Linked DNA regions of Homo sapiens: all the other regions are linked to region 1. Evidence: fine-mapped expression QTL. A gene starts in region 1. Each other region holds a variant in brackets. All regions are shown on one strand. Distances are between the middles of the regions.

The links.
Region 2: its variant is fine-mapped to the expression of PTPRU in tibial nerve (GTEx, PIP 0.96).
Region 3: its variant is fine-mapped to the expression of PTPRU in cerebellar hemisphere (GTEx, PIP 0.98).

What each region holds. Positions count from the first base shown.
Region 1 is chr1:29,232,397-29,242,708 of GRCh38, forward strand. It overlaps PTPRU (protein tyrosine phosphatase receptor type U), which reads left to right and starts at 4,126. Exons shown (of 30, transcript NM_133178.4): 1 at 4,126-4,321. The coding sequence starts at 4,249. RefSeq lists a silencer at 3,929-4,248.
Region 2 is chr1:29,300,533-29,310,844 of GRCh38, forward strand. PTPRU (protein tyrosine phosphatase receptor type U) reads left to right here. Exons shown (of 30, transcript NM_133178.4): 16 at 3,323-3,513; 17 at 4,242-4,317; 18 at 4,820-4,896; 19 at 10,212-10,248. Among named protein-coding and RNA genes, the nearest start is that of LINC01756, 44 kb to the right of the region's middle. RefSeq lists an enhancer at 10,162-10,312. The variant A/G (reference allele first, on the strand shown) is at 4,865.
Region 3 is chr1:29,391,446-29,401,757 of GRCh38, forward strand. No RefSeq gene overlaps it. Among named protein-coding and RNA genes, the nearest start is that of LINC01756, 46 kb to the left of the region's middle. RefSeq lists a silencer at 3,018-3,218. The variant C/T (reference allele first, on the strand shown) is at 5,559.

The sequences.
Region 1 (10,312 bases):
CCCTCAGACTAGGGTCTGGCTTATAGTATGTGCTCACTAAATGTCTGTACTTGTTTTTATTATTAGAGAAAGTTGGTGTCCCATGGTGGGGGAAAGGCTTGGCCCCACATTTATGTGCCAGCACACACACGATGACCAGTCCTGCTTACCCTTTTCCCCAGTGACACATAGGCTTACTTGAACTGGGAAGTACAACGTAACCTTCTGTTGTAAGACTCCCTAGGTGACATTGAGATGTCGACATTCTCTTCTTCACCAAATTGGCTCCTCTGAATTTCTGGGGAGCCCAGTCAGGAAGCCTGAAGAATCATCCAGCAAGTCCTCCTCCTTGGGGCTGGACTTTAGCCTCCTGTGCATCCCAATAGCCCTCACTTTTAGTCTAGGCCATCTGGGTTCTTGCAGGGGCATAGTTTGAGAACTACTGACTGAGGGGTTCAAGTCCAATTTCCTGGACTTGCATTCAAGATTCTTTGCACTCTGACTCCCACACTGCATTTCCAGCTTCATCTTCTCCTGTTGGACCGTGCATAGCCTGTGATCCAGCTGCATCTGATACCCGTCTTCCCCAGTGTGTCTTGTGCCTTTATTCAGGCCACTCCTTCTGCCTGAAATGCTGTTCCCTGCCTCGGAAACTCCAGGTTCAGATGTCATTTCTTTGATGTTTCAAAACTCCCTAGGTCATCTGCTGCTGCCTTTGTGTTTTCCCTGGAGCTGTGTTATGGCCTTTAGTACATCGTCTCTTATTTATTCCCCTCCAGGCAAGACTGGAGCCATGTTTGGTTTATCTCCATAACACCAGCACCCGATATGAGCCTGGCACAGGGTAGGTGTCATAAATATTCCATGAGTTGCAGGTAATTGAATTTCCTCATGGCCTAGAACGGTCTGTGGTGCCATCTCCTTTTCCCTAGATTTGGGCTGGTCACTCCAGGCCAGGAATTTCCTTCTTCCTTCTTCTCTCAAGGATTATAGAAGTCTGTGGTCTTTTTTTTTTTTTTTTTTTTTTTTTGAGACAGAGTTTTGCTCGTTGCCCAGGCTGGAGTGCAATGGCGCGATCTTGGCTCACTGCAACCTCCGCCTCCCAGGTTCAAGCAATTCTCCTGCCTCAGCCTCCTGAGTAGCTGGGATTACAGGTGCCCGCAACTACGTCTGGCTAATTTTTGTATTTTTTTTTTTTTTAGTAGAGACAGGGTTTCACCATGTTAGTCAGGCTGGTCTCAAACTCCTGACCTCGCCTCTGCCTCCCAAAATGCTGGGATTACAGGTGTGAACCACTGTGCCCGGCTGAAGTTTGTGGTCTTTTAAAAGTAAAGCAGAAAGTCCTCTTCTCATCTGTCTACCTGTTGCTTGTGTTCTCTTTCTCCCTCCATTATAGTCTCTGCCATCTTCCCCTGCACAAAGGGCAAAGGGATGTGGAATCAGTCAGATCTGGGTTCAAATCTAGGGCCCGCCGTCTATTTACTAGCTGTGTCACCTTAGGCAAGTGTCATATGCTCTCTGAACCTCAGTTTCCACACCCGTAAAATGGGATCACTGGTAAAACTCCTATTTTGAGGCTCTCTCAAGAGCCCTCTGCAAACAGCACCCTTGGTTGTTTCTTCTGTTCACTGGTTTTCTCTCCTTGAGTTTCCTTTTCTGGGTGGGCCTCTCTGGCTCCTCTCTGCTCCAGCGTCTCTGTATCTTAGTTTCTTCCCTAAGGTTTCCCCTTGGTTTCTTCTTGCTTCTGCCTCCCTCTCCCTATTTAATTATCTGTGTCTAATTCTTGCCTGCTGTGTCTTTTGGTCCCTTTCCTAACTCAGTGTGGAGCTCATCAGCTCTCACAAGAGAGGAGACCAAGAGCCCAGGAACTCTCAACCCAGCGATACCTCCTCCAGCCCCAGGGCAGCTTCAAGGTGTGTCCATCTCAGCATGAAGCCAGCTAGGAGGGGCAGGGCACAGGGAGGGCCTACATATACCTTGAACTCCTACGCTTTGTTCAGTGTCACTGCCCAGTGGTCAGACCCATCTGCCCATGGCTTTCCCTACTTCAGCAGTCTTTATAGCTGGAGCTGTAAAAAAAAAAAAACAAAAAAAAAAAAACCCAGAGATCAGAACTTATTACTCCTTATTACTCCTCTGCTTAATTACTCCACTTCAGTGGCCTCCCATTAATTACTCTTAGGGTTGAACCTCAAGCCCCTTCCTTGCTCATAGTTTCTTGCCTGACCTACAGACCCTGCTGACTTGTCTAGCTGCACCTGGCTCCCTTCTGCCCCTGACTCACTCCATGCCAGCTGCCCGGCTTCCTTGCAGCTGCTTGTACCCACCAGCTCCTGCCTTTGCACAGGCTGTCCCCTCTGACTGCAATGTTCCTCTCCACTGATTTGCATGAGGTTGGCTCCTTCTCATACTTCAGGTCTCAGTTCAAATGTCACCATGTCACTTCTATAGCAAAGCCCTCTTGGACCACTTATCTAAAGGAGATGCCCCTTCCCTATGTTCTTTATCATTATACTCCCTCGTTTCCTTTAGCTTGCATATCTTAGATGGTAATGATATATTTATGTACATGTTTGCTGTTGGGCTCTCCTAATAGAATGTAAGATTCATGAAGGCTAGGACCATTTCCCTTTCATTCATTCCATCCAGTCAGTATTTATTGAGCATCAATTACGTGCCAGAGGCCGGGCGCGGTGGCTCACGCCTGTAATCCCTGCACATTGGGAGACTGAGGCAGGTGGATCACCTGAGGTCAGGAGTTCCAGACCAGCCTGGCCAACATGGTGAAACCCTGTCTCTACTAAAAATACGAAAATTAGCCGGGCGTGGTGGTGGGCACCTGTAATCCCAGTTACTTGGGAGGCTGAGCCAGGAGAATTGTTGGAGCCTGGGAGGCAGAGGTTGCAATGAGCCAAGACTGCGCCATTGCACTCCAGCCTGGGCAACAAGAGTGAAACTCCATCTTGAAATAAAATAAAATAAAATAAAATAATAAAAACATGCCATATACTGGGCACGGAAATACAAGATGAGTCTTTTCCCAAGGGAGCTCATTTCTAGAGGTGGAGACAGATAATGAACTCATCATATAGCCCGCACTCTATTTGAAATTGCAACAATTCCCCTTCCCTTCCCTGTCCCCCCACCACCCCCAAATTTCCTGGTGTATGAGACAGTGATAAAGGACGTACACCAGAGGGTTTGCTTTTTTGTTTTTGTTTTTTTGGTTGTTTACTGTTCTTGTCTTCCCACTGGAATGTAAGGTCCATGAGAGTAGGGAATTTTTGTCTGTTTTATATCTCTACCCTGGCCTATAGTAATTGTTGAATAAATGAATAGACCCCAATAAATATTTGTTGAATGAATAGGTGTCCAGATGGGAGGAAGGTCTCAGCCCCTATTCAATTCAAACCAAACAACTTTGATTCAAATCTCGGTGCTGTCAAATACTGTTGCATAACAGTATTTATGCAGTATAATTATTGCATACCTAATATATGATGATTAAATGAGTCCATGTGGGTTAAACACATAGAAGGTACCTGGTCTTACATAGTAATGAGCAACGAGTTTGCAGATCATAGTGCGAGGGCTCGTTCTGGGTAGAGGCCCAAATACATTTAACCTGTGTAGCCAGAAGGTAGAGTAGGACCAGTGAGGGCTAGTGAGGGAGGTAGACTTGCACGTCATGAAATGAAAAACTTTCTAAAAGCCGGCGTTTCCAAAGCCCCAACAACCGCTCTTGGCCAGGTGATGAGCGCCCTGTTCCTGGAGGTATGTAGAACACGCATTTGAAGGCGCCAAGGTACAAGGGATTCAGGCATCGGATGGGACAGAGGCCGGGTGTCCCTGGGTCACCGTCCCTGAGAGCGCTGTACGGGAGCTAGGCGTGGGCCATGAGCGTGCTCGCCTGGCAGTGTTGGTGCCCGGTCCGTGGAGACGTCCGTGGGCGTCCAGACCCAGCCGCGGGGCCTCATGGCGGGGAGGATGCGGGAGCGGGGGAGGGGCGCGCCAGGGCTAGCGGGCGGCCGGACCCGCTGCAGCACCCGCCGTGGCCAGCAGGGAGCGCCGCGAGACCGCCGAACCCGCGGCCGGGCCTGACGTCAGCGCCCCGCTTGCTCCGGCTCGCGCTCTGGACTCGGCGCCAGTCCCGCTCCGCGCCGCGCCGCTCCGCTCCGGCTCGGGCTCCGGCTCGCCTCGGGCTGGGCTCGGGCTCCGGGGGCGGCGTCCCCCGCGCCGGGCCCCGGGACGGGCGGCGACGCTCCAACCATGGCCCGTGCCCAGGCGCTCGTGCTGGCACTCACCTTCCAGCTCTGCGCGCCGGAGACCGAGACTCCGGCAGGTAAGCGCGCGGCGGCCGGACCGAGCCTGCCCCGCCGAGCCTCGGGGCCCGTGGCGTAGCTCGGAAGAAAGTGTGAGTGTTGAGTGACCGGGCGTTACGAGCGTGCTCCCTGTGTGTGTCTGAGCGTAGGATGGGCGATTGTGTGCCCGGGGTGTTGCGTGACTGCGAATGTTGTGTGTCCGTGAGTTCTGTGCGCAAGAAAAGGTGATGTGTGTCGGCGAGTATGTTGGGGGTGAATGTTGTGTGCATCGAGGCATTGGGTGTGCGCTGAGTGTCTTGTGGGTCTGCCAGTGTGTAGTGTTTGTGTGGCCAAGTGGGTTGTGTGTGCATCTGAGTTTGGTTGTGTTGCGGGAGTTGTATCTGCTAATGTGTTGCATTTGTTTGCATTTTGTATGCCTGGCCGGGAGTGCTGTTTGTTTTGTGTCTGCGAGTGGGTTGTGTGTTTGTGTTATGCCTGTGGCCAAGGGTGCTCTCTGGATCCCGCCTGAGTGTGGATCCGGGAACGCGTGTGTGGCGTGTGTGCTTTTGAGATCCGTGTACATGTGTGAAGGCGTGGGAACGGGTCCGGAACGTGTGTGTCCGTGCGCTGTGTACGTGTGGGGAGTGTCTAGGGTATGTGGTGTGTGCTGCCGGGGGCCGCGTGGGTCCGAGTGAATGCCAAGTGTGCCGGGAATGCGTGTGTGGGAGCGAGTCTGGAACGGATGTGAGTGTGTGCGAATGTGTCCGTGTGTGCTGGCTGCGCGTCCAGGAATGTTGCGAGTGTGGAGCGCGCCTGGGCCGCGGCTGCGAGTGTGCCCTGGTCCCGGGGCCGCCCGAGGGGGCGGTGGCAGGACGTGTGTGCGCGCGTGTGCGTGTGCGCGTGTGTGGCGCGCTGGGCCGGAACAAGTTGTCGCGGCGGCGCCCCCTGGGCTGCCCGGGTCGGGCAGGGCCCGAGGCTCAGGGGAGGACCGGGCCCCGCGGCCGCCGCCTCGGGCATGTCGGACTGTTTGTTGTTTCGCAAGTTCCGCGCGGCGCTGGCGGGCGGCTGATCCGAGGCGGCGCCGGGGCTGCGGGGCGCCCGGGCCAGCGGGCCCCAGCGAGGGGCCGGCGGGCGGGCAGGGGAGGGCCGGACCGGCGGGCGCTCCTGCGGTGGCCGGGCCGCGGCTGCGCCCCGGGCGGCCGGGCGGGGGCTGTCCCCGGGCTGGGCTGCGACGTCCGGGCGCGGGCAGGGCCTGGCTCGCCGCCGGGGGACGGCGCCCCCTCCCTTGGCGCGCAGGACGCGCGGGGGACGCCCGGGCCTCCCGGGACACTCCCTTGGTGGAGCCTGCAACTTTGTGCGGCCTCCCGGCCGGCCGGGACCGCCAGGTGTGTGCTTGAGTGTGAGCGTGAGTGTGAGCGTGTGGCTCCGCGCTTGTCTGCTGTGTGGTCGCGTTCTCCGGGTGTGTTTCGGAGTCTGGTGTCTTTGGTGTGCGTGCGCGTGTGTGTGTGCGCGCAGCTGAATGTATGTATACGGAGCCTGTGTTTGTGTGTCCGTGTGCTCGTCGGAGTGTGGACGGTGTGTCGGATGTGTGTGCGTGCGCGTGTTCCACATCCCACCCTGAGGCCTGGGATCCTAGACCGCGGCCCCTTCCCGCGGAGTTTCGGGGCCCTGCTCCGGGTGACCTCCCCCGCCCTCGCCACCGGCGGGGCTGCTCCGCGGGCTCCGGGTAGCCGGGAGACGCCCGGGGCGGGATCCGAGCCGAGACACGTGCTGGAGCGGAGCCGCTTCCTCACGGTCGCCAGCCGCAGACAACTGACCTCCCCGGCATCGCGTTCGCGGCCCTGCTGCTGGCTCCGGTGTCTCGGGCCGGAACTCCTGTGGCTCCAGCGTTCGCGCCGGCCACTGGCCAGCGCTTGGGCCTCGCCCTGCAGCTCCGGGGCCATAGGGCACAGCTTTAGCTTTGACCTCCCCGTTCCCGAAAGGACGCCCAAGGCGACCTCCCACCCCATCCTCCCCAACTTCTCCCCCATGTCCTGCGGCAACTTTGCCTCCCTCTCCCACCGTGAAATCAAACCCGCGGGGTTCTGTATGCGCCCCATCCCCGCTCCTACCACCATCGCTTTGATTTCAAGAACACTCACAAGCCCCAAGCCCTGCCAGCAGGAGGACTGTCAGGAACTGAAGTTTGGGAGTGAGGCCTAGAGCAGGTTACTCCCATTCTTGATGCCTCAGTTTCCTCTTCTGCCTCATAGCCATCATGATAATGGTGTATGGCACTTTTGGTAGATACCAAGTACCTTGTAAAGTAAGGCTCTGTCTGTGAGTGCCAGGGAACAAAAAATGGATTTGAGAGTTGTTGCAAAGCCCCAGACAGAGGCTGTGATTTAAAGCTGGGGTATTAGGTGTCAAATTCTGCCTCTGCTACTTGCTATTCATGTGATGTCTGGCAAATCACCTCACTTGTAAAGTTCCTGGCCCCCTTTGTTATTCTTAGAGATGAACTCAGAAGCCCAAGTAGAATAGATGTGATACCCCTTGTCCCCAGTCTGGACAGAGTCAGCCCAGCTCCCTGAATGGCTCCGGAGCTTCCGGGTAGGGGCGGTGTGTGATGCCTTCTCAGCCTTGCAAACCTGGTAGTTATTTATTCTGCTGTGTTCTTGCTATTTTGTCCTTTTGGTCGCAGGAGTTGTGGACGGCAGGAATGAGGGAGTGGCTGCCCAGTGGTTTCAGGTTGGGCAATAAAGGCTTGTCTGGGCATCCCTCCCTTTTCCCTGGGGCTAGGGGAGGGGACTTAGCAGGAAGCAGTGACAGTGGCCGAGGTGGGGACGCTGAGCTCCTGGACAGCCTGCTGCCCAGCTCTGGTGTCAGAAAAAACCTAGGGCAAGCATCGTGCTTGATGGAGACAGGCCACCATCCTTCCATGATTTTCATCAGCTCAGCTGGGCATATGGGGTGGCCTTTCCATGCAGGACTGGGTTGGCCAGAGTTGCAGGGGGTACCTTGTGCTCCTCCTTCCTCCCCCTCCCCCCTTTTCCTAGTTGCCCTCCTGCATCCTGGAACGTCCTGTCTGCCCTCTCAGAGACTCTTTCATCTGTCTCCTTCTGTCCGTCCTCAGCTATCTTTCACCTGCAGGAAGACTCCAGCCTCCTCCTTCCCTCTTTCCCTCATGGTGCCAGGGATCTTTGTAAAGTACATTTTAACTCAAAGGGTTTAAAACCCTTTGAAGGCTCCCCATTGCCTTCAGGGTGAAGTCCTTATCCCTTGGCCCTGTTGCTGGCTCTAGCTCCTGCCTGCCTGTCCAGCTGCATCTTGTTTTGTGTCACTGCCCCTTGCATCCTATGATCTGGCCAGCCTGACCTTCTTACCAAAGACCCAAATGCCCACAGCCTGCTGTCTCCTCTCTGGGCCTTTGGGCAAGCCGTGCTTTCTCTGCAGAACTTTCTAACTCCAGCTTTTTGCTGGTGAACTCCTGCAACTTGATGGGCTCTCAGCTGTAAGCATCATCCAGTCCCTGAAGCCTTCCTCGGTGATGCCCTGTCCTAGCCTAGGAAGTCGGGGGGTGGGGGTCAATTGGATTTTTACATAGCATTGTAATTATTGTAATTACAGTTTATTAGTGCTGTCTCCCTTACCAGACTGAGAGCTGAGGACAGAGACTGGGTTTTTAGTTTACTTCTGAATCTTAGTGCCAGGTACAAGGCCTGGCCCACCGGGTCTGAATAAATATATATGGCCTGAAAGAATAAAGTTTAAGGGGGCCAGGTTCAGAGGTGGAGATGCCAGATGGGGGTGCACTGATTCCACTGAAGGTAGAGATTGAAGAACCAGGTTTCCCTCCAGGAATCTGGAAAATTCCTGGAGGGTGGGGGATGGTGTTATGTTGTGAAAAGGCCATGTTGAGAGTGTCATCTGGGAGCTTTGAGTTGGGGAGGTTGAGTCCCTGGCAAGAGACTGAAGGGAACGGGCCTCCTGCCTGCCAGCCCCTCCCCCAGGCTCTGGCCCCACCCCTAGCAGCTGGCAGGGCCCTTCCAGCCCCCAGTCTCAGGCTTTTGTGATGGGGCCTGGCAGTTGGTGAGACGTTGAGTCTCAACGGTCTGTGTGAGTGGCTGGGGAGGAGGGAGGGAGCCCGCAGGGCCCTGTGTTAGGAGAGGGAGGGAAGCTTCCTGGAAGACCCTCCCTTAGTCCTCAGTCCTAGATCCTAGGGTGGGCGGGTGGGGTCACAGCCTCTGTTCTCACCGCTTGTGCACCGGAGGGAAGGGAGGAGAACTGCATCCCGTGGTGGCCCTGGCAGATGGGGTTGGGGAGGCTGGCTGAGGTGTGTGCAGATGTGACTCTAGCATCTGGGCAGTCAGAGTGGGGGGTGTGTAGGGATTGTAACTAGGGGCATGGACACATGTGACCTGTTAGGGTGTCTAGCCATCTGGTTATCGTGTGGTGTGGCAGGATCTGAGTTTGGAGTAGGGAGGTAACCAGCTGCTTTGACCCCTGGGGAGCCTGGTGCTAAGGGTGTCTGGCTATCCAAGTATCACATTCCTGGAGTTGGGTGCAGAGCTATTTGGATGGGTGGTGTCTCGCTATCTAGGTGTGGACAACCCAGTACCAGCATGTGGGAGGATCAGGGTGTGCAGACAGAGGCTATCCCAGCATCCCTGGGGCTGGAGGTGGGTGTATCCATGTGTCTGGGAGTCCTCAGGTTAGTGGGTATTTATAAGTGGGGAGTGTCTCTGTGTTGTGTCCAGGTATGGGGCTGGCCAGGTGCCTGAGTGTCTGGTTGTAGGGGTCCCCAAGTGTCCGGGTATCTGAGGGTGGGGGTATCTGTGTATGAAACAACAGGGACCCAGTCATTGAAGTATCCAGTTGTTAGTGAGTCTGGGTGTGGGGTGCCATGTGTCTATTTTTTTTTTTTCTTCTTCTTCTTCTTCTTCTTCTTTTTTTTGAGATGGAGTCTCACTCTGTCACCCAGGCTGGAGTGCAGTGGCGTGATCTTGGCTCATTGCAACCTCCGCCTCCCGGGTTCAAGTGATTCTCCTGCCTCAGCCTCCTAAGTAGCTGGGATTACAGGCGCACGCCACCATGCCTGGCTAATTTTTGTATTTTTAGTAGAGACTGGGTTTCGTCATGTTGGTCAGGCTGGTCTTGAACTCCTGACATTGTGATCTGCCTGCCTTGGCCTTCCAAAGTGCTGAGATTACAGGCGTGAACCACAGCGCACGGCCTTTTCTTCTTTTTTATTCAGATGGAGTCTCGCTTTGTCACCCAGGCTGGAGTGCAATGGCATGATCTCGGCTCACTGCAACCTTTGCCTCCTGGGTTCAAGCGATTCTCCTGCCTCAGCCTCCCGAATAGCTGGGATTACAGGCACCCGCCACCATGCCTGGCTAATTTTTGTATTTTTAGTAGAGATGGGGTTTCACCATGTTGGCCAGGCTGGTCTTGAACTCCTGACCTCAGGTGATCCACCTGCTTCGGCCTCCCAAAGTGTTGGGATTACAGGTGTGAGCCACTGTGCCTGGCCTCATGTGTCTATTTGTATGTTTAGATGTGGAGGTGCCCTTGTGACCTATGGTGGTGTCCATGTATCCAGGATGTGTCCACAAGGGGTGTGGACGTGTTGGGTGGGAATGTCCTGGTGGCTGTACCCAACTCAACCTCTGGTAGCCCCTTCCCTGGGACTTGCCTCCTGATCGCTCTTCAGACTCCAAAGCCAGAAGCCTTGGAAGGGGCCCCGATAGTTCTGTTTTTCAACGGTCAGCCTAGAGCTGTGTTATCTAATAGAACCTTCTGTGGTGATGGAAATTGTCCTCTACCTGCATTCTCCAATACGGTGGCTCCTGAGTCATGTATGGGTATTACATTTAAATTAATTAAAATAAAAATTCAATCCCTCAGTTGCACTAGTCAGATTTCAAGTCCTCAAGAGTCATATGTTGCTAGTGGCTCTCATTGTACTGGTTAATGCAGGCAGAGAACATTTCCATCCTCTCAGAAAGTTCTGCAGACAGCACTGGTCTAGAGGCATGAGGCGGCCTGCA
Region 2 (10,312 bases), 68 kb after region 1:
GGCAACCACCAAATTAGGCCAGTCTTTTCTCTTTGGACCTCAGTTTCCCCATCTGTAAAATTAAGGGTTTGGGCATCCCACCACAATGGCATAACTGGTACTTGATTTGCCATCCAGCTGTAAGCAACCAGTAATCCAGCTAAAATATAGGAATCAATTGCTTTCAGACATTGAACTATAGGCAGCTGAAGACCGTGGTTCCTGAGAGCAGAGAAGCAAATGAGGTGAAGTCATCTTCAAACCATGGCACAGGAAGGTGGAACCCAAGCACAATGGGGCAGCCTCCCTGCCCTGGTTGGAGTTTGAGGAAGTTGAGCTCATCAGGGGGTCTCCTGGTGATCCTGCATTCATTCTACCAGTTAGTTGCTGAGTAGGAATTCTAGGCCAGGCACCGGAGAGGGTTCTTGCCGGGAGGGTCATTTCAGTTGAGAGTTGAAGGATGAGTATGAGTTCATCAGGCAAGAAAAGTAGGGGGAGGAGGAGTTTTGGAGGGAGAAGGACAGCATATGTGAAGGCACAGGGAGTGGGGGCAGGTTATCTAGGCCCCACTGACAGTCCCCCACTGGACCCTGCCAGCTTAGATCTGGGCAGAGATTGGCTTGAAAATGTGGGGAGGGCTGGAGTTGAATAAGCCCCTCACAGCCTCACCCAGAGCAGGAGGAGGGACATGCGTACAATCATGCACTGCATAATGAAGTTTTGGTCAACAATGGACCACGTATACCATGGTGGTCCTATAAGATTATAATGGAGTTGAAAAACTCCTATGACCTAGTGACATTGTAGCCATCATAATGTCATCGTGCAATGCATTATTCACTTGTTTGTGGTGAAGCTGGAATAAACCTACTGCATTGTCAGTTGTAAAAAAGTCTAGCACATACAATTATGTGCAGTACATAATAGTTAATGATGACTGTGTTACTGGTTTATGTATTTAATATACTATTAATCATTATTTTAGAGTGTACTTATTTTTTAAAAAGTTAACTGTAAAACAGCCTCTGGCAGGTCCTTCAGGAAGTGTCCCAGAAGAAGGCACCATTTTCTTTCTTTCTTTTTTTATTGTACTTTAAGTTCTAGGGTACATGTGCACAATGTGCAGGTTTGTTACATATGTATACATGTGCCATGTTGGTGTGCTACACCCATTAACTTGTCATTTACATTAGGTATATCTCCTAATGCTATCCTTCCCCCCTCCCCTCATCCCATGACAGGCCCCGGTGTGTGATGTTCCCCGCCCTGTGTCCAAGTGTTCTCATTGTTCAATTCCCACCTATGAGTGAGAACATGTGATGTTTGGTTTTCTGTCCTTGCAACAGTTTGCTCAGAATGATAGTTTCCAGCTTCATCCATGTCCCTACAAAGGACATGGACTCATCCTTTTTTATGGCTGCATAGTATTCCATAGTGTGTATGTGCCACATTTTCTTAATCCAGTCTATCACTGATGGACATTTGGGTTGGTTCCAAGTCTTAGAAGGCAACGTTTTCATAGGTGATGACGGCTACGTGTGTGTTATTGCCCCTAAAGACCTCCCAGTGGGACAAGATGTGGAGGTGGAAGACAGCGATACTGATGATCCTGACCCTGTGCAGGCCTAGGCTAATGTGTATGTGTGTGTGTGTGTGTGTGTGTGTGTGTGTGTCTTAGTTTTTAACAAAAAAAATTTAAAAAACGAAAAAAAATTTTAAATAGAAAAAAGTATAGAATAAAGATAGAAAATATTTTTGTATAGCTGTACTATGTGCATGTCATTACAAAAGTCAAAAAATTCAAATTAAAACATTTCAGTAAGCTAAGGTTAATTTATTATTCAAGAAGGAAAACTATTTTTAAATAAGTGTATTGTAGCCTAAGCATACAGTGTTTATAAAGCTCACAGTAGCGTACAGGAATGTCCTAGGCCTTCATATTCACTTACCAGTCACTCAGTGACTCACCCAGGACAGCTTCCAGTCCTGCAGCTTCATTCATGGTAAATGCCTTATACAGGTGTATCATTTATTATGATTTTTTTTTCTTTTTTTTGAGACAGAGTCTCGCACTGTCACCTGGGCTGGAGTGCAGTGGCGCGATCTTGGCTCACTGCAACCTCTGCCTCCCAGGTTCAAGTGATTCTCCTGCCTCAGCCTCCCAAGTAGCTGGGATTACAGGCTCGTGCCATCATACCCAGCTAATTTTTTGTATTTTTAGTAGAGACGGGGTTTCACCATGTTGGCCAGGTTGGTCTTGAACTCCTGACCTCATGATTCACCCACCTCGGCCTCCCAAATTTCTGGGATTACAGGTTTGAGCCACCACACCCGGCCCATTTATTATTTTTATAGCGTATTTTTAGTGTGCATTTTCTATGTTAAGATACATAAATACTTACCATTGTGTTATAATTGCCTACAGTATTCAGTACAGGTTTGTAGCGTAGGAGCAATAGGCTATGCCGTGCAGCCCAGGTCCATGGAGTAGGCTCTACTATCTGAGTTTGTGTAAATACACTCTGTGGTGTTCGCACAAAGACCAAATCACCTAACAATGCATTTTTCGGAATGCATCCCTGTTGTTAAGCGATGCATAAGTATTAAATGAGTGAGTGGGCGTGCGTGTCCCAAGGCGGGTGTGGCTATTTTCTCAGTCCCAGGACCTGATCTCCAAGACCAGAGTGGGACGTCCTTGGGAATGCTGAACAGAACAGCCGGGGACGGGGTGGTCCTGGGGGCTCGGGGGAGGATGGTTTCCCAGGGTGTGTGAGGAGCTGTGGACCTCTCCACCCACTCCCCCACTGGCTGCGGCCCCGCACAGGCTGACGGTGGAACTGCCTGCGCAGGAGAAAGGCGCCTATTCGGGTGCCTGGTGTTAATCTGCAGAGGGGTTGGCAGCAGCTGCTAATTTCTGATTTGCCTGTCTTTGAATGGGGGTAATTGCTGGGAGTTGCCAGTGTTCCAGGTTGTTCTCTGGAAGAGGGGGAGGAAGAAGCAGCTGTCATGGGCTCTGCGGAGTGCTGCCTTCTGCAGGTAGCATGGTGAAGCCTCGCTGGATAGAGTGAGGGGATAATGAAATCTAGCCAGGCAGGGCCGCAAGGGCCCTCGGAGGCCACCTGATCTGACCGGCTCATTCTACAGGTGGAACCGAGATTTGGAGGGAGGGAATGTGTTCAGGACCACACAGGGTGGGCCTGGCTAGGCTGCTTGGCTCCAGCCAACAACCCAGCTATGCTTGGCATTGGCTGTGCCTCCCCACCCCCATAGACCCCAGTCTCTCCAGGACCCCCGAGGCTGGGGCATGTGTGTCAAGAACCCTTTTGTCTTTCTCTGACTGCAGGAGACCAGCGCAGCGGTGGGGTCACTGAGGCCAGCAGCCTCCTGGGGGGCTCCCCGAGGCGTCCCTGTGGCCGGAAGGGCTCCCCATACCACACGGGGCAGCTGCACCCTGCGGTGCGTGTCGCAGACCTTCTGCAGCACATCAACCAGATGAAGACGGCCGAGGGTTACGGCTTCAAGCAGGAGTATGAGGTGCACGCCGGCCCCGGGCCAGCAGGATCCCTGCAGAGGCCTCACCTGGCTCTTACTCTCTGTGGACTCTGACCCTGGCAACCCTCAGCCTAGTCCTGGTTGGACGCCTGCTCTGACAGTTTCCAACTCAACCTTTTTGACCTCGACTCTGACCCTCATCCTAATTTTAGACTGATTTGGTTTTTCACTCTCATGCTAACCCTGATTTGAAATCTGACCTTGAATCTCGTCTCCATCTCTATGTGGACTGTGATCGGGATCCTTATTCTGTCCCTAAACTGAATCTGCCCACTGACACTGACCTTGACCTAATCCCAGCCTGACATTGATCCTGACTGTCATCCTAAGCTCCATTTGAACTCTGGATCTCATCCCACCTCTGTCTGGACTCTGACATCACCCTTATCCTAATCTAAATCTGACCTCACCTTTACCTTCTTTCTAACCGTTATTCTAAGCCTGACCCTTATTCCAAAATGTCTTTGAACCCTGGCCCTCTTTTCCTCTTTTCTCATTTCCCTTCCCCCCACATGCCTTGGTTTTGACCCTGGTCCCTGGCTGATAAAAGGACCCACAGTGACACAGTGACTTTATCTCAGGCCCAAGTTCAGCTTGAATCTGGCCCTTATCATCCCACCCCCATCCTGCCTACATCATCCCCACTGAGGGGAAGGGGCCCTCAGTGAGGGTCCCTCTCTCCCACTGACCACCACTTTTCTTTCTGGTAGAGCTTCTTTGAAGGCTGGGACGCCACAAAGAAGAAAGACAAGGTCAAGGGCAGCCGGCAGGAGCCAATGCCTGCCTGTGAGTCCTGGGGAAGGGCCTGGGGTCCAGGGCAGTGGGTGGGAGGGCATCAGGAGGGGGAACACAGCCAGGGTGAGCTGGGGCAGCCTCAGAGATGATAGTAGCATTGGCCACCTTTTATTGAGGGCCTACCACACGTCACGCCCTGTGCTTGTTTCATTTATTCCCTTCAATTTCCCTGTGAAACGGGAAATACTATAATCCCTGTTTTACAAATAAGGAAACTGAGGCTTGGGAGATTAAGATTCCTGCTTAAGGTCTCAGAGCCAGTAATTGCCTGAGCAGCATACACTCTTAGGCCTCCTTGACTCCATAGCCCAGGCTCTACCCCCTGGTGTGTCCTGCCTCCCATGGTGCCCAGAGACTACTGGTAAGCCCTGAGACTCTAGGTTCCCTGGCTGCCCTGCCTGTGCCCTATCCCCTAGCCTCCAGGAATCCCTCCCTGACTGCCTAGCTCTGGGCTCCCCAGTTCAGCCCCTGCCCACCTGCTCTGTGTTTACAGATGATCGGCACCGAGTGAAACTGCACCCGATGCTGGGAGACCCCA[A/G]TGCCGACTACATTAATGCCAACTACATAGATGTGAGTGCCTTGCCCTGTCATTTCTGCAGACCTGGCCCTGCCCGCTCCAGGCTTACTATCCAGGCAGGGCAGAAACCTGTCGGGATAAATGGGGGTTCAAATGGCTGAGTTCGGAGTGCCCCTATCTCTGCAGTCAGTGCCAGGGAGCTCAGAGGAGGGAGGACAGTGAGCAGCAGCTTCTGGAAGGCTTTCTGTAGGTGGGAGTTGGCCTGAGAGATGAGGTGCTTTAGAGAAGCAAAGCAAAGGGAAGAGGCAGACAGCTAGGCCAAGAGGTGAGGAAGGCGGGAGGCATGGAGAATGGGATTCTCATCGTGCACCATGAGGCTGAAGAGGTAGGCAGGGGCTGGATTGTGAAGACCTCAAATGGCAGGCTCAGGAGTGGGGGCTTTTTCCTAGGGGCACCAGGGAGTTGTTAAAGTGTTTTGACCATGATCAGAGTGGTCCTTTAAGAATAATAACGCACATTTATCCAGCACGTACTGAGTGCCAAGCACTGTGCTAAGCACTTTACACCCAAGATCTCCTTTTCTGTAATCCCTCCACCCACCCTTTGAGGCAGTTAGCACCATGACCTCACTTTACAGGTGAGGAAACCGGGGCTCAGAGACGTGGAGCGACTTGTCCCAGGTTGCACAGCTAGTGAGTGGTAAAGAAAGGACGCAAATCTCAGCCTGTCTGTGTCTCTAAAGCCTTTGCTGCTGTGAGGCTGTCCTGCCCCCTGCTGCAGCAGCAGCAGGACTTGGATGGATTGGAGGGAGGGGCCAGAGACAGAGCAGGCAGCCAGGAGGCCTGGGCTTGGGTGTCAAAGAGAGGTGATGAGTCTACTTCCTAGGTGTGGAAGAGGGGCGAGGCGGGACAGGGCCCCTAATCCCTACAGCAAACCAAGTTTGGGAGAGCATCATTTAATCACGTATGAAATATATTTTGAGCACTTCCTTTGTGCCATGCATTGTGCTGGGCACCAGGGATACAGATGTGAACAAGACAGTCATGGCCTCTGCTTTCCTTGAACATATCTATTTGAGTGGGTGAGACAGATAGACATGTTTACAAATCAAAATAACTTCAGATTAGATGAGCAAGTGCAGGCCAGGAGAGAGATCACACAGCTTGAGTGTTACACAGCAGGCTAGTGGCAGAGCCAGGGCTGGTGTGGCGGGCTTTGTGGAGGAAGCAGGGCTTGAGCTGCCTCTGGGTGGCTGGAGAGGAGAGGGAAGAGTGTCCCGGGTGAGGAGCTGCCTAAGCAAAGGCCTGGGGGGCCAGGCAGAGCAAGGCACAGGTCTGGGAGCCGAGGTAGTCAGGGTCTCTGGAGGTGGCCTCTCCTCTCCCTCTTCTTCTCCTCCTCCTGGGGCCAGATGTGCCATGCCATGTTTCCCAGAATCCCTTGCTGCCTCCCCCACTCATCCTGTCCCTTGGTTGGAGTCAGGGCCAGGCCCAGCCTGGAAGACTTGGGCAGCTTTGGTGACAGCGGGCCTCTCCTTGGTCTTGCCAAGGTCCCAGTTGGCTCCTCTTGGGCCCTGGCAGGGACATGCCACTCCCCACTCTGTGGCTCAGCCCAGCCCGGCCTGCCCGTCTCCGCTCTGCCTGCCCTGCTCACATCGCCCATTCTGGCCACTCCTGTGCTCCGTCCACCTCCATCTGCCCCTGGCCTAATATCTGTCTCTTTTGCTTTGTACTGTTTCCTCACTGGAATCATTAAGATTCGGATAAACCGAGAAGTAAGTATCTCTCTCCCCTTCTCCTCCTCCTCCTCTTCCTCCTGTCTGTCTGACTGGCTGTATCTCAGACTCTCTCACGGTCTCTGGCTGTCTGTCTCTCTGTCTCTGTCCTTCCTTTCTACTTATGTGCCCAGCACCAACCGTCCATTTCAGCAGCCTGGCCAGGGGCTGCCCAGGGCTGAAGATTCGAGAGTGTTCCTATTGTAAGCAGTTCCCTCCCATCCTCCACTGCCTTGAGCAGGGGCAGCAGTGTTGGGGGTGCTTCCCCTGCCCATTCTGCACTGGTCACAACAGTCTGTCACCTTCCTTCCCTGGCTCCGCCATTCCCAAGGAGTCCTCCCTAGCCTCCCTAGCTGCACCTTCTACAGGACCCTTTGGAGGGTGCAGGGGAAGCTGCCCTGGAGGGCCCTGTTTCTGCTGCTTAAGGGTCAAGATCTTGGACAGCCCCAGGTCAGCCTCCTAAAACTACTTTCCCTAGTGTTCAAATACCTTCATGATCAGTTTGCCTGAAACTCAACCCCGACCATTTTACCCTCAATTTAGCCTTAATTTGAATGTTTTTTGGTGGAAGCAGTTTGGATAGTCTGTTTTTAAATATTATGCTTTTTTTTTTTTTTTTTTTTTTTTTTTTGAGGTGGAGTTTCGCTCTTGTTGCCCAGGCTGGAGCGCAGTGGCACGATCTCGGCTCACTGCAACCTCTGCCTCCTGGGTTCAAGTGATTCTCCTGCCTCAGCCTCCCAAGTAGCTGGAATTACAGGCATGCACCACCACGCCCAGCTAATTTTTGTATTTTTAGTAGAGATGGGGTTTCACCATGTTAGGCTGGTCTCAAACTCCTGACCTTAGGTGATCCACCTGCCTTGGCCTCCCAAAGTGCTGGGATTACAGGCATGAGCCACCACACCTGGCCCATTTTTTAGCCTTTTAAAATTAAAAAAACTACCCTAATTCATCTAGCTATTCTCTAATTTGATTTCTTTTTTCTTTTTTTTTGAGACAGGTTCTTGCTCTGGAGTGCAGGGGTGTGATCATGGCTCACTGCAGCCTTGAAGTCCTATGCACAAGCAATCCTTCTACCTCAGCCTCCTGAGTAGCTGGGACTACAGGCGTGTGCTGCCATGCCCGGCTAATTTTTTCCTTTTTTTTTTTTTTTTAAGAGATGGGGTCTTCTCAGCACTTTGGGAGGCCAAGGCAGGCAGATTGCTTGAGTCCAGGAGTTCGAGATCAGCGTGGGCAACATAGTGAGATTGCCTCTACAAAAAATACAAAAATTAGCTGGGCGTGGTGGCTCATGCCTGTAGTCCCAGCTACTAGGGAGGCTGAAGTGGGAGGGTTGCTTAAGCCTGGGAGGCAGAAGTTGCAGTGAGTCGAGATCGTGCCATTGCACTCCAGACTGACCAACAGAGCCAGTCCCTGTCTCAAAAAAAAAAAAAAAAAAAAGAGAGAGAGAGATGGGGTCTCACTATGTTGCCTAGGCTGGGGATTTTTAATACATATATACTGTTTTCATAATATTTAATGACTGGTGATTATTTGCTATTTTGTGGGTGCTTTTTCCATTTTGTCTCCTTTTTCTTTTAAAAAATATATTTCTTGGCTGGGTGCAGTGGCTCACACCTGTAATCTCAGTACTTTGGGAGGCTGAGGCGGGAGGATTGCTTGAGCCCAGGAGTTAGACCAGCCTGGGTAACATAGTGAGACCCCATTTCTACAAACAAACCAACAAACAAAAATTAGTTGGATGTAGTGGCCTGTGCCTGTAGTCCCAGCTACTTGGGAGGTTGAGGTGGGAGGATTGCTTGAGCACTGGAGGTCGAGGCTGCAGTGGAGACAGTGGCATGGAGCGACAGCAGGAGGGAATTGGGCTAGACGTGGAGAAGTTCCAGTGCTGAGGGCTGAGAGTCACTGGGAGGCTTTTCGTCATTAGTCACTTTGACTATGTTTTGGTCATTTTCGTGGGAACAGTGAGCAGGTATCCAGCAGAATCTCTGAGTGTTTGTCTTGCTATTATCCTCATATTGCAGAGGAGAACAAAGGCTTAGAGAGGCCAAGAGCCTGGCTACTCAGGATGTTTTGAGGCCAGCAATATGGACACCACCTGGGAGCTGGTGATGCATAATCCCGGGCCCCACCCCAGACCTTTGAATCTGAATCTGCCTTTTAACAAGATCCCCCGGGAGATTTATGTCTCAAGAAAGACTGAGAAGCACCTTCTCAGCGCTCAGAGTTACACAGCTACTGCTCGGCATAGCTGTGGCAGGGACCCAGGTCCATTCAACTCCAAGACTCAGATTCTTCACCCCATAGTCAATCGCCTTCTGCCCCAGCAATTCTTGACTTCCATTTGATACACTTGATTCATTTGTATCTTCAAGGATACTGCTTCAGCTTTAAAATAGTAGTAGTAATAATAATGGCTATTACTGAATAAGTACTGACTTTGTGCTAGACACAGTGGCAGACATTTAACATACTACTTTATTTGCTTCTCACAACAGCCCTCAGAGGTAAATGCTGTAATTATTCCATTTTATAGACATGAAAATGGAGGCATAGAGAAATGAAGGAGTTTTTGCTCAAAGGCACACAGCTAGTGAGAGGTAGAGCTGGGATTTGAACCTTGGCAGTCTGGCCCCTGGGCTCCTCAGGCCTGGGAAGTTCACGAGACCGGAGGAGTTGCTGGGAGCTGTGTTGAGGGTGTAAACTTGAGGTAGGGGGCTGGGCTAGTTTTCTCAGCGCCAGCCCTGCAGTACTAATTCCCCTTTCCGCATTGCCCGCATTGATGCCCTTGGTATCTGGTGAATTCTTTTGCTCAGAAAGATGAGGCCTTGTGGCAGGACCTCATGGGTGGCTGTGGCCCTGGGGTGGCTTGTCGGAGGGCAGGTTTCTCTCCTCAGCTTGGGGGCTCTGGGGATGGAGGATGAAGTAGCTCTTGGCCTCTCTCTCGTGGGAGGTGGTACTGGTAAAGTGCTTAGCACAGTACGTGACCATAACAGGGTCATTATTATTGATCTTAAAGATTTTAACATTTTATCCAAGGGCCATGAGTAATGTCTGTGCCCATATACTTCCATCCTGAAGCCCTCATCTAGGCCCCCCACGCTCTGAGTGACTGAGGAGTAAGGGGGAGGGGTACTGTCCATTCTGGTTATCCCAAGTGTGGGGGCTAAGATAACTGACAAGCTCTGGTTATCCCACGTGTGGGATCTGGGTTGATTAGAGCTTCTGGAACCCTGGGAACAGGGCAGGGCCATTGGGGACTCTGTCTCCGAACAACAGCCTGGCTGAAAGCAGATGCCTCTCTCCACTTTATGGGTGGGGGGTCCCTCTAGGCACATAAAGGAGTCATGTCCTCCCTGGGGTTGCACAGCCCAGGTTGGATTAAGCCCACGACTCTGGTGTCCCAGCTGTACTTCTCCACTTCCTTGGGGACCTGGGGGGATGCAAAGTCATCCTGCTTAGGAGGTCCTAGGGATGTGAGGGAGCAGTTCCCTGGTGGGGTAGGGGTTCTGCTGCTGGGAGGGGAGGGTAGAGGAGGTGTGGGGGAGTGAGGGGCTACTCCCTGGGGTCTAACCGTGCCCTCTCCTCCTGTTCCAGGGTTACCACAGGTCAAACCACTTCATAGCCACTCAAGGTACCTGGCACTTCTGCCCACATGCGCCTTCCCATGTGCCTCCCAGCGTGCTGGAATGCCCTCA
Region 3 (10,312 bases), 160 kb after region 1:
GGGAGGGATTCATTCATCACCCAAGGGCTCCTTCCACTGACGACATTCTCAGGGCTGCCCGGGAACCAAGAGGTGGAGATAAGTATCTGGTCTGCCATTGGTGGGGCACTTACAGTGCTGAATGCTCTGCTACACCCACCCCATGGTTACTGACCCCTCACAAGCAGCTGATGACAGGGGCTGTTATCACCCCATTTTACAGATGTGGACACTGAGGCTCAAGAGCTTACGTGGCATTCCTAGGGCATGGCTGCTCAGTGTCGGAACCAAGACTTGGACTCTGCATCTGACAGCAGAGTCCACCCTCCTATCCACCCCTCTAGGCCCCCAGCTACTGTCCCTCTGATCCCTGGAGTCCATGGCCTGGTGGGGGAGCAGCCAGTGAGTACTGTGGCAGGACTTAAACCTGGGTCTGTTTGACCCAGACCTGAGCCCTTAGCCCCAGTGATCCTGGTCTTTAGGAAGCGAGCCCTGGGCAGAGCTGAGCAGCCCCAGAGCCTGAGCCCAAGGCAAGGGCCTTTCCTTGAACTAGACTATCCAGTCACTACAGTCCAGCCTCCCTGACCACCACTCCAGTGGAGTCCTGAACATAGGCTAAGCTTGGGTTGGAGTCCTGTGTGAGCTAGGAAAAGTCTCCAAGCCCCGAAGAGAACGAATGACCTCCTCCCTACAGGATTGCTGTGGGAATGACAGGAGATGAAATGTGAGGGAGCATCCCTCAGCTCACCTGTCAGGTGGATTAATGAGCTGTGTCCTGTAGGACTGTAGTGAGGACCAGATTGGATGCTGCACATGGGGGAACCTGGCACAGGACCTGGAACTCCTACAGGGCTCAACATAGGTCCCTTTGTCCTCCTGCCTTGGCCTGGCCCCCCAGCTCTGGCCTAGACTCCCGAGTCCCTTGCAGGCTTTTCTCTACTTTGCTCCTGGCTCTGAGGTCCCTTGGGTCTCACATCTACCTCTGAACACCAAGGTCATGTAGGGCCCTGGCCTCCTGGGCTGTCCAGGATGCAGAGGAGATCCAGGTGGGGTACAGAGCTGCAGGGTCATGTGGGAAGGATGGCCTCCAGGGCCCTGCATAGTCTGATTTCACCCATCCTTCCACCCCATCCCCCTGCCCAGCTTCAGGCTGCTCCCTCCCGTTTTCAGTTCCCAGGATGTGGAGGAGTCTCTCTCCAACTTCAGACCCTAAGACATTCCTTGCTTCCTCTGCCCTTCATGCCTCCCTACCCCTGTGGCCTTCTCCGGGCTCCCCCAACTATTTGCACCCCCCATCATAGCACTTAAATATTTTGTGCGATTGTGGGTTTATTCGTGGTCTCCCCCACCCTGCTGGGGGCATTTTGCAGGTGGAGACTGTGGCTTGTTGACAGCTGTATGCACAGAAGGCAGCCCAGGGCCTGGCACTCAGTCAGATGAATGAATGAATGAATGAATGAATGAATGAATGAATGAATGGATGGGTGGGTGAATGGATGGAGGAATGAAAAAAACTGCGATGTTGCCTTCAAGTAAACGTTTCATGAATGAGTAAGTGACAAGCATCATTCTTTCAAATACTTAAAGAGCTGCCTTAGGGCAAAGGGAGAAAGGACAAAGTGATCCTGTGTAGCCCCGGGAATTGTATTTAGGACAGAATAAATGTCACAGAGGCAGATTTCAGCTGAAGGCTAAGGAAAGGCTTTCTAACAGGGCTCTCTCAATATGGTGGGTGACTTGCAGGGAGTAAGCTCTCCATCACAGGAGGTATGTAAGCAGAGGCCTGGCAGTGAGGTCTGGTGTCAGTGGCCTAAGAGGTATTTCAGTACTGCACTTGTCAGTCTGGAGTCCTGGCATCAGGGGGTTGTGTGGCCCACTTCTGGGATGATGTGGAACATTTGTTGAGTGTCCTTGTTCCCCTGGCCTTTGATGGGGACAGGACATAGAAGGAGAACATCTTATTGGGGTCTATAAAGGGCTGGAGGCACCTCATATCTCCATTTGCCTGGAAAGTGCCAGACATCTGGTCTCCCAAGACTGTGGACAGGGTAGGGCTGGGACAGAGGCTGTTGCAGGCTTTGGGGTGGGAGGAGAAGGAGGAAGGGGGTACAGAGTAGCCTAGAGGAAAGAGGCAGCTTGGGTGCAGGAGCTGAGCCTGTCCTGGGTCATAGAAGTGCTGGGTGCAGGTCCTGGCAACTCTGGCATCACACTGGCTCGTGCCTTTGGGCTCATCACTTCCCTTCCCTGAGTGTGAGCTCCACTGTCTGTCAAAGGAGAGGCAGACTCAGCGCTCCCCAGCAGTCAGGAGTACCTGTTGATGCTGTGTGTCCTTGGGCAGGTCACTTAATCTCTCTGAGCCTTTGCTTCCACATCTAGAAGTAGAGCTAACAGCAGCCACCCCCACAATCCACAGGGTCATTCTGGAAACCAAGACATATCTGTGATGGAATGTCCCTTTTTTCTTCTCCCTCCCCCCTCCCCACTTCCTTCCTCCCTTCCTCCCTCCCTCCCCTCCTCCCCTCCTTCTCCCTTCCTCCCTTCCTCCCTTCCTTCCTTAATCTTTGTTGTGCACCTACTATGTTCTTCGAAAAGCCTGAACTGAGGCTGGGCGCTGTTGCTCACGCCTATAATCCCGGCACTTTGGGAGGATGAGGAAGGTGGATCATCGAGGTCAGGAGTTCGAGACCAGCCTGGCCAATATGGTGAAACCCCATTTCTACTAAAAATTGTCTGGGCGTGGTGGTGTGCATCTGTAGTCCCAGCTACTCAGGAGGCTGAGACAGGAGAATCGCTTGAACCTGGGAGACAGAGGTTGCAGTGAGCTGAGATTGCACCACTGCACTCCAGCCTGGACGACAGAGCCAGACTCCATCTCAAAAAAAAAAAAAAAAAAAAAGCAAAAAGAAAAGCCTGAACTGTTATCCCCATCCATCGACTGTGTGTGTTTGTATATATTGAGATGACTCCACTTCACCTCCCTGTGCAGCACATCCCTCCTGCTCTGTGACCTGTGGGATGGGGATGGGGACTCCTGCTCTGAGTGCAGACACGGCCTCCTGGGAGCCATGTGCTTGGAGCTGTTCAGGGACCACAGGCCCAGCTCTCATTAAATTCTTCACTCCAGTCTGTACTGCAGGAGACCTCAGAAAAGGCAGGTTTCATGAATGAAACATCAAAATGTTTACCAAGCAGTAAACACCTGACAGCAGTCCTGGTTTCCTGGACGAGGTGACACAGGTGCCCGGTGGACCTGGTTCCTCTGGATGCTCCCTTGGGAACCTCTGGGCATAGCCTCATGGCTGGTGCCACCCCCCATCCCTGAGCATGGGGACCCGTGGGAACCCTGTATTGAGCACCCCTGTGCGGGGACTCACCGAGCGTGGGACAGGGCTGTGGTCACCCCAGGTACAGAGGAGCCACCGGGTCACAGGGGCCAAGCCACAGCCCAGGGCCCCAGCGAAAAGGCAGTGGGGCCAGGAGGGGATTGAGGCAGGCTGGTTTGGAGCCCACCACAGGCCTCAGCTCTGCTGGTGGATGAGGGTCAGGGAAGTTTGCAGGTGGACAGAGGCAGGAAGGCTAAATTGCCCTCTTAGGCTGGGCACCAAGCAGACCCTTGACACCCCTCATCTCTAGCCTCCCACCTTCCCTGTGAGATGGGCATCATGCTGTTTCCCAGCCAAGGAAACCAAGGTTCTGAGGTCACCCAAGGCCACATGGAAGTGGGAGAGGACAAGGACAGGCGGAAGGGTGGACAGGCCAGGCCAATCTCTTGTGTGTGTTTCTCTGTTGCTCTCTTTCTGTACCTACCCATTCTCTCTCTCCCTTTCTTTCTCTCTCTCTCTCTCTAACACACACACACACACACACACACACACACACACACCACACACACTCTTCCCCAGTGGCTTCTGGCCCCTCTCCTAGCACCTTCCCACTGCCTGGGTGCCCGGCCCTTCTCTGGGCAGAAACCCAGGGGCTGGCCGGGCTCCAGGTGTCTATTTTGCTCTGGCCCAGACACAGAAGCAGAGCAGGAGCCCCTGAGTGTGGGGAGCAGGGGCAGAGCCAGAACTCAGCGGGAGCGTCCTGGCCTGGACCTGAACCTGCGAGGAAGGTTTGGATTTTCAAAGCTAAGGCATGCTGCATGTTTTACTTTAAGTGTTTTCTTGTTCCTTCTCACTGGCTGGTGCCTCCCTCCCTCCCAGGTCACGAAAAGATGTTCCATCAAAAGCAAAGAGGTGATCGCACAGTTTTAAGTGTCAAAGTCAAAGCTCCATCAACGTGATCACATTGAATTCTCTGAGCCCGGTAAGGTCAGGTCATTGCTCCCATTTACAACCAAGAAAACCAAGGCCAAGGTGGGAAGTGAATTGCTGGAGGCCACAAGTTCATTCCATTACTAAGTCACCCAGACCTCTGCCCTGACCTCTAGCCCTTCCTCTTCCCCACTGTCCCATGACAGCTCTGAAATCAGCTCTGGTTTTTTTTTTTTTGGTCTTTAAGACAATAATAATCTGTGAAGTATGTTGGGAAGGTCCTAGGGGACCAGCCAGGCACAAATAAGGAAGCTGGTCCTTGCCAGTGGTCACTTCCTGAATGTGGTGGTGGCCAGTACTGGGGTGACTCTCTGAGGGGCAAGATGAGGTGTTGATATATGACTTCCTTGGGCTCAGCCAGAGCTGTCTCCAGCCTCCAGAAGGGTGACCAGACTCCAGAACTTTTTCTTACCCAGAAAGCCCCGGTGCTCCCTTCACTAAGAGCATTCAGGCTCCGTGACTTTCTTCTCAGGGTCATGGGGTCTTCAGGCTGCCCTGGGTCCAGCCCCACCCAATGCAGTTCTGCCTGCACACCCGGGGGTGAGCCCAACCCCCGCCTCTCCTTTCTGGGCAGTACTGGGGACTCCTGGAGGCCGGGCTGAGTGTGCTTCACTCTCTGTAGGGAAAGTATCCCTGGGAGGCTCTGGGGCCCTCAGGGAAGGGGCTGATGGGGGCCAGTCCTTGCCCTCCTATGGAGCCAGCATCCCTTTGAGCTTGCCTCTGGGGTCTTCTGGGACAAAGTCCAGGAAATTGGAGCTAATAAGGCCGGTCTTATGGGTCATGATCAGGATTCAAGAGTCAGAGTGTCTAGTCCTGTCCATGCTTGGCTATTATTAGTCCTCTGACCTTCTTTGTGCCTCAGTTTCTGCCTCTGTAAAATGGGGATAATCATTGCTTTCTGGTAGGCTTGTTGTGAGCAGTAAATGGATGAATTCGTGTGAATCCTGAAGGCAGTGCCCGGTGCCTCGATAGTCAGCGTTCAGTGAGTCGCAGTGTTGTTGTTATTGTTCTTATTTGGCACCACGTTTCCAGGCACAGTTTGCAGGATGACAGCTTGGGGAAGTAGCTAGAGCTTCTGATTTTCATGTTTAATGCATCTAAGTTTAGGGCTTGGAGCAGGAGAGGACATCGCCATCTGGAGGCAGAGACTCAGTTCTCTGCATCCAACTGAGATGCACTGAAATGCTTCCATTGGCAACTGGGGAGCAGGCATGAAGACAGGGCCAGATGGGACCCCCAGGGATAAGGAAATGAGGTGGAGGGACA[C/T]AGACGGGCAGCAGCGGGGCAGCTGGCCAGAGAGGCTCCCTTCAGCCCCCACACCTTCCCTCCACTGAGTGAGTCAACCTGGGCAGGCCCCAGAAACTGGAACATTGAAAAGAACATTAGTGTCCAGCATGTCCCCCATTTTACAGATGAGGCCCCAAGAGTGGAAGATCCTTGCCCAAGGTTATACAGCAAATCATTGTCCAGGCTAGGCTGAGGCCCCAGGTTTCCTGACTCCCTGTCTAGTGCCCTTTCTCCTTAGAGAGTCAGGAGAGATGAAACTGAGAGGGGCAGGGCTGACCCCCAGGGCTCCTTAACCTAGGGGTCTCTGAGAGAGGCAGGGCTGACCTCTGGGGCTACTTAGAAGCCATCAACCCAGGGTTCTCTGGGTGGAGCTTGTGACCTGGACCTCATTATCAGGGTAGGTGAATGACTCCTGTCAGTCAGATGGGGATGCTGAGGCTGAGAGAGGGCCAGGCTGGCTCAGGTGGCTTGGCAGGTAAGCAACAGGCAGGGTCTTAGGTTAAGAGCTCTTATCTCTAAGCACAGCCAGCATCCCCGAGCTGATACCTTTCATTTAAAATCTCACCTAGAGCTTTGGAGACAAAGCCGATTTTATTACAGCTTTCATGTCTTGCACAAACCATGCCCACACGCCTGTCGTCTTGTAATTATTCTTGTACCTCTCTCTGTCTCTGGGGTCTCGAGGCTCCTCCAGGCTTGTGCAGCCTCTCCTCCCACTGCCAGGCTCCCAGGGCTAACCCTCAGTGTGGCATAAAGTGCTGCATTATTTATTTCCTAATAAAAAGACAGCTTGGGTGACCCGATGGGAGATTAAAATGGATTTACTATGAGATGATTGACCATAAAACTGCAGGTTAAATCAACATGAGACGAGGTGGGGGACAAGGAGATAGAAAGTAAAGGACAGGAGCTGCTGGTGACATTAGTCAAGGGGGTTCACATTCGCACAGGTGACCAGGATTACTGTTGCCTTCAAGCTTCCTTCCAGAGAAGGCTGTGGGGGTGGCCTGGAACGAATTCTCCCACTGTGTGGCTCCAGGTGCGTCCCTTATAGTCTCAGAACCTCAGCTTCCCTATTTACTGAATACAGAGACCGAAGTAGAGGCTTCTTGCTTGGTATGAGTGGAAAGAGCATGGTCTCTGACACCAGATAGGCTGGGGCCTGGGTTCCAGCGTGCTGGGTCCCGGGAGTGGCACTAGGCAGACAACTTCTCGAAAGTTCTCTTTTCTTTCCATGGAGATGGCAGTAATAATGGTGATGTTCGTGATAATGATGATGATTATTATTCTAGTAATAATAATAATAATAGTGATAGCATAGCTAACATTCATCAACGGCTTAACTACACTTTAATACACTTAGAAAAACATCACGTGTTCTTAGTCTTTCACATACATAGAATCATACAGCCCTCACAACCACCCTGTGGGTACTATTGTTATTTCCATCTTGCAGAGGAGGTGGATTTCCCCACAAGGTACGGTAGCACCCCAGAGAGCAGATTGCTGGCAAGCCTGTTTGGCACCACAGTGGGTTTCCTGCTTGCCAACCTCAGCTTGTGGAATCTCAGAAACTTCCTTACCATTCAGTGGCTACAGCCACACCCTCTCCAGTGAGGTCTGAATCATAGCACGGGAGTGGGAGTTCTTTCAAATTTGTTTATCCCTTGAGTACTCTGCCTCAACTCCACATATTGGCTATGTCTGCCTAGCATTCTCTTTACTCCTTAGTAATTAATGCCATCATTAGGCAATCATTCTTCTCTCTCTTTTTTTTTTAGAGGGGCGTCACATTCTGTTGCCAAGGCTGGAGTGTAGTGGTGCAATCATGGCTCACTGCAGCTTTGAACTCCTGGGCTAGGCAATTCTCCCACCTCAGCTTCCCGAGTAGCTGGGATTACAAGCTTGAGCCACTGCTCCCAGCTCTAGGCAATAATTCTTTATATCAGGCTTTTCCTGATAAAATTACTGTGTGATCCTGCCTTCTGACTAGATCCCAACTGACATAGAATTGGTACTAAGACTGGTGCTGGGATATAGACTAGCAACGATGGTATTTATAATTTTTAACTAAACTTTAAAATGATAAAAAACCATTCTTAGCTCATGAGCCATGCAAAAATAAACCGTGGGTTAGATTAGTTTGTCAACCCCTGGCTTGGAGATACAGTCTGATGTGGTTTGGATCTGTGTCCTCACCAAATCTCATGTCAAATTGTAATCGCCTGTGTTGGAGGTGGGGCCTGGTGGGAGGTGATTGGATCATGGGGTCAAAGTTTTCATGAATAGGCTAGCACCATCCCTTAGGTGCCGTTCTTGTGATAGTGAGGGAGTGAGTTATCATGAGATCTGGTTGTTTAAAAGTATGTATCACCTCCCTCCTCTCTCTTCCTTTTGCTCCAGCCATGCAAGATGTACCAGCTTCCCCTTTGCCTTCCACCATGATTGTAAGTTTCCTGAAGCCTCCCCAGAAGCTGATGCTGCCAGACTTCCTGTACAGCCTGCAAACTGGGTAATTTATAAAGAAAAGAAGTTTAATTGAATTAAAAAGTTAATTAACTTTTCCTTATAAATTACCAAGTCTCAGGTATTTCTTTATATAATTTTTTGTGAGAATTGGTACCAGGAGTGGGATATTGCTATAAGGATACCTGAAAATGTGGAAGCGGCTTTGGAACTGGGTAACAGACAGAGGTTCTAAGAATTTAGAGGGCTCAGAAGAAGATAGAAAGATGAGGGAAAATGTGGAACTTCCTAGAGACTTGTTAAATTGTTGTGACCAAAATGCTGATAGTGATATGGACAACAAAGTCCAGGCTTAAGAGGTCTCAGATGGAGATGATGAAATTACTGGGAACTGGAGTAAAGGTCACTTTTGCTATGCTTTAGCAACGAGCTTGGCTGTATTGTGCCCCTGCTCTAGGGATCTGTGGAACTTTGAACTTGAGAGTGGTTATTTAGGGTATCTGGTGGAAGAAATTTCCAAGCCATAAAACATTCAAGATGTGGCCTGGCTGCTTCTTTTATATATATATTTATTATACTTTCAGTTCTAGGCTACATGTGCACAATGTGCAGGTTTGTTACATATGTATATATGTGCCATGTTGGTGTGCTGCACCCACTAACTTGTCATTTAACATCAGGTATATCTCCTAATGCTATCCCTCCCCCCTCCCCCCACCCCACAACAGGCCCTGGTGTGTGATGTTCCCCTTCCTGTGTCCAAGTGTTCTCATTGTTCAATTCCCACCTATGAGTGAGAACATGCAGTGTTTGATTTTTTGTCCTTGTGATAGTTTGCTGAGAATGATGGTTTCCAGCTTCATCTATGTCCCTACAAGAGACATGAACTCATCCTTTTTCATGGCTGCATAGTATTCCATGGTGTATATGTGCCACATTTTCTTAATCCAGTCTATCATTGTTGGACATTTGGGTTGGTTCCAAGTCTTTGCTATTGTGATAGTGCTGCAGTAAACATACATGTGCATGTGTCTTTATAGCAGCATGATTTATAATCCTTTGGGTATATACCCAGTAATGGGATGGCTGGGTCAAATGATATTTCTAGTTCTAGATCCCTGAGGAATCACCACACTGTCTTCCACAATGGTTGAACTAGTTTACAGTCCCACCAACAGTGTAAAAGTGTTCCTATTTCTCCACATCCTCTCCAGCACCTGTTGTTTCCTGACTTTTTAATGATCGCCATTCTAACTGGTGTGAGATGATACCTCATTGTGGTTTTGACTTGCATTTCTCTGATGGCCAGTGATGATGAACATTTTTTCATGTGTCTGTTGGCTGCATAAATGTCTTCTTTTGAGAAGTGTCTGTTCATATCCTTTGCCCAATTTTTGATGGGGTTGTTTGTTTTTTTCTTGTAAATTTGTTTGAGTTCTTTGTAGATTCTGGATATTAGCCCTTTGTCAGATGAGTAGATTGCAAAAATTTTCTCCCATTCTGTAGGTTGCCTGTTCACTCTGATGGTAGTTTCTTTAGCTGTGCAGAAGCTCTTTAGTTTAATTAGATCCCATTTGTCAATTTTGGCTTTTGTTGCCATTGCTTTTGGTGTTTTAGACATGAAGTCCTTGCCCATGCCTATGTCCTGAATGGTATTGCCTAGGCTTTCTTCTAGGGTTTTTATGGTTTTAGATCTAACATTTAAGTCTTTAATCCATCTTGAATTAATTTTTGTATAAGGTGTAAGGAAGGGATCCACTTTCAGCTTTCTACATATGGCTAGCCAGTTTTCCCAGCACTGTTTATTAAATAGGGAATCCTTTCCCCATTTCTTGTTTTTGTCAGGTTTGTCAAAGATCAGATAGTTGTAGATGTGTGGTATTATTTCTGAGGGCTCTGTTCTGTTCCATTGGTCTATATCTCTGTTTTGGTACCAGTACCATGCTGTTTTGGTTACTGTAGCCTTGTAGTATAGTTTGAAGTCAGGTAGCGTGAAGTCAGGTATGTTCTTTTCGCTTAGGATTGACTTGGCAATGCGGGCTCTTTTTTGGTTCCATATGAACTTTAAAGTAGTTTTTTCCAATTCTGTGAAGAAAGTCATTGGTAGCTTGATGGGGATGGCATTGAATCTATAAATTACCTTGGGCAGTATGGTCATTTTCATGATATTGATTCTTCCTGTCCACGAGCATGGAATGTTCTTCCATTTGTTTGTGTTCTCTTTTAATTCACTGAGCAGTGGTTTGTAGTTCTCCTTGAAGAGGTCT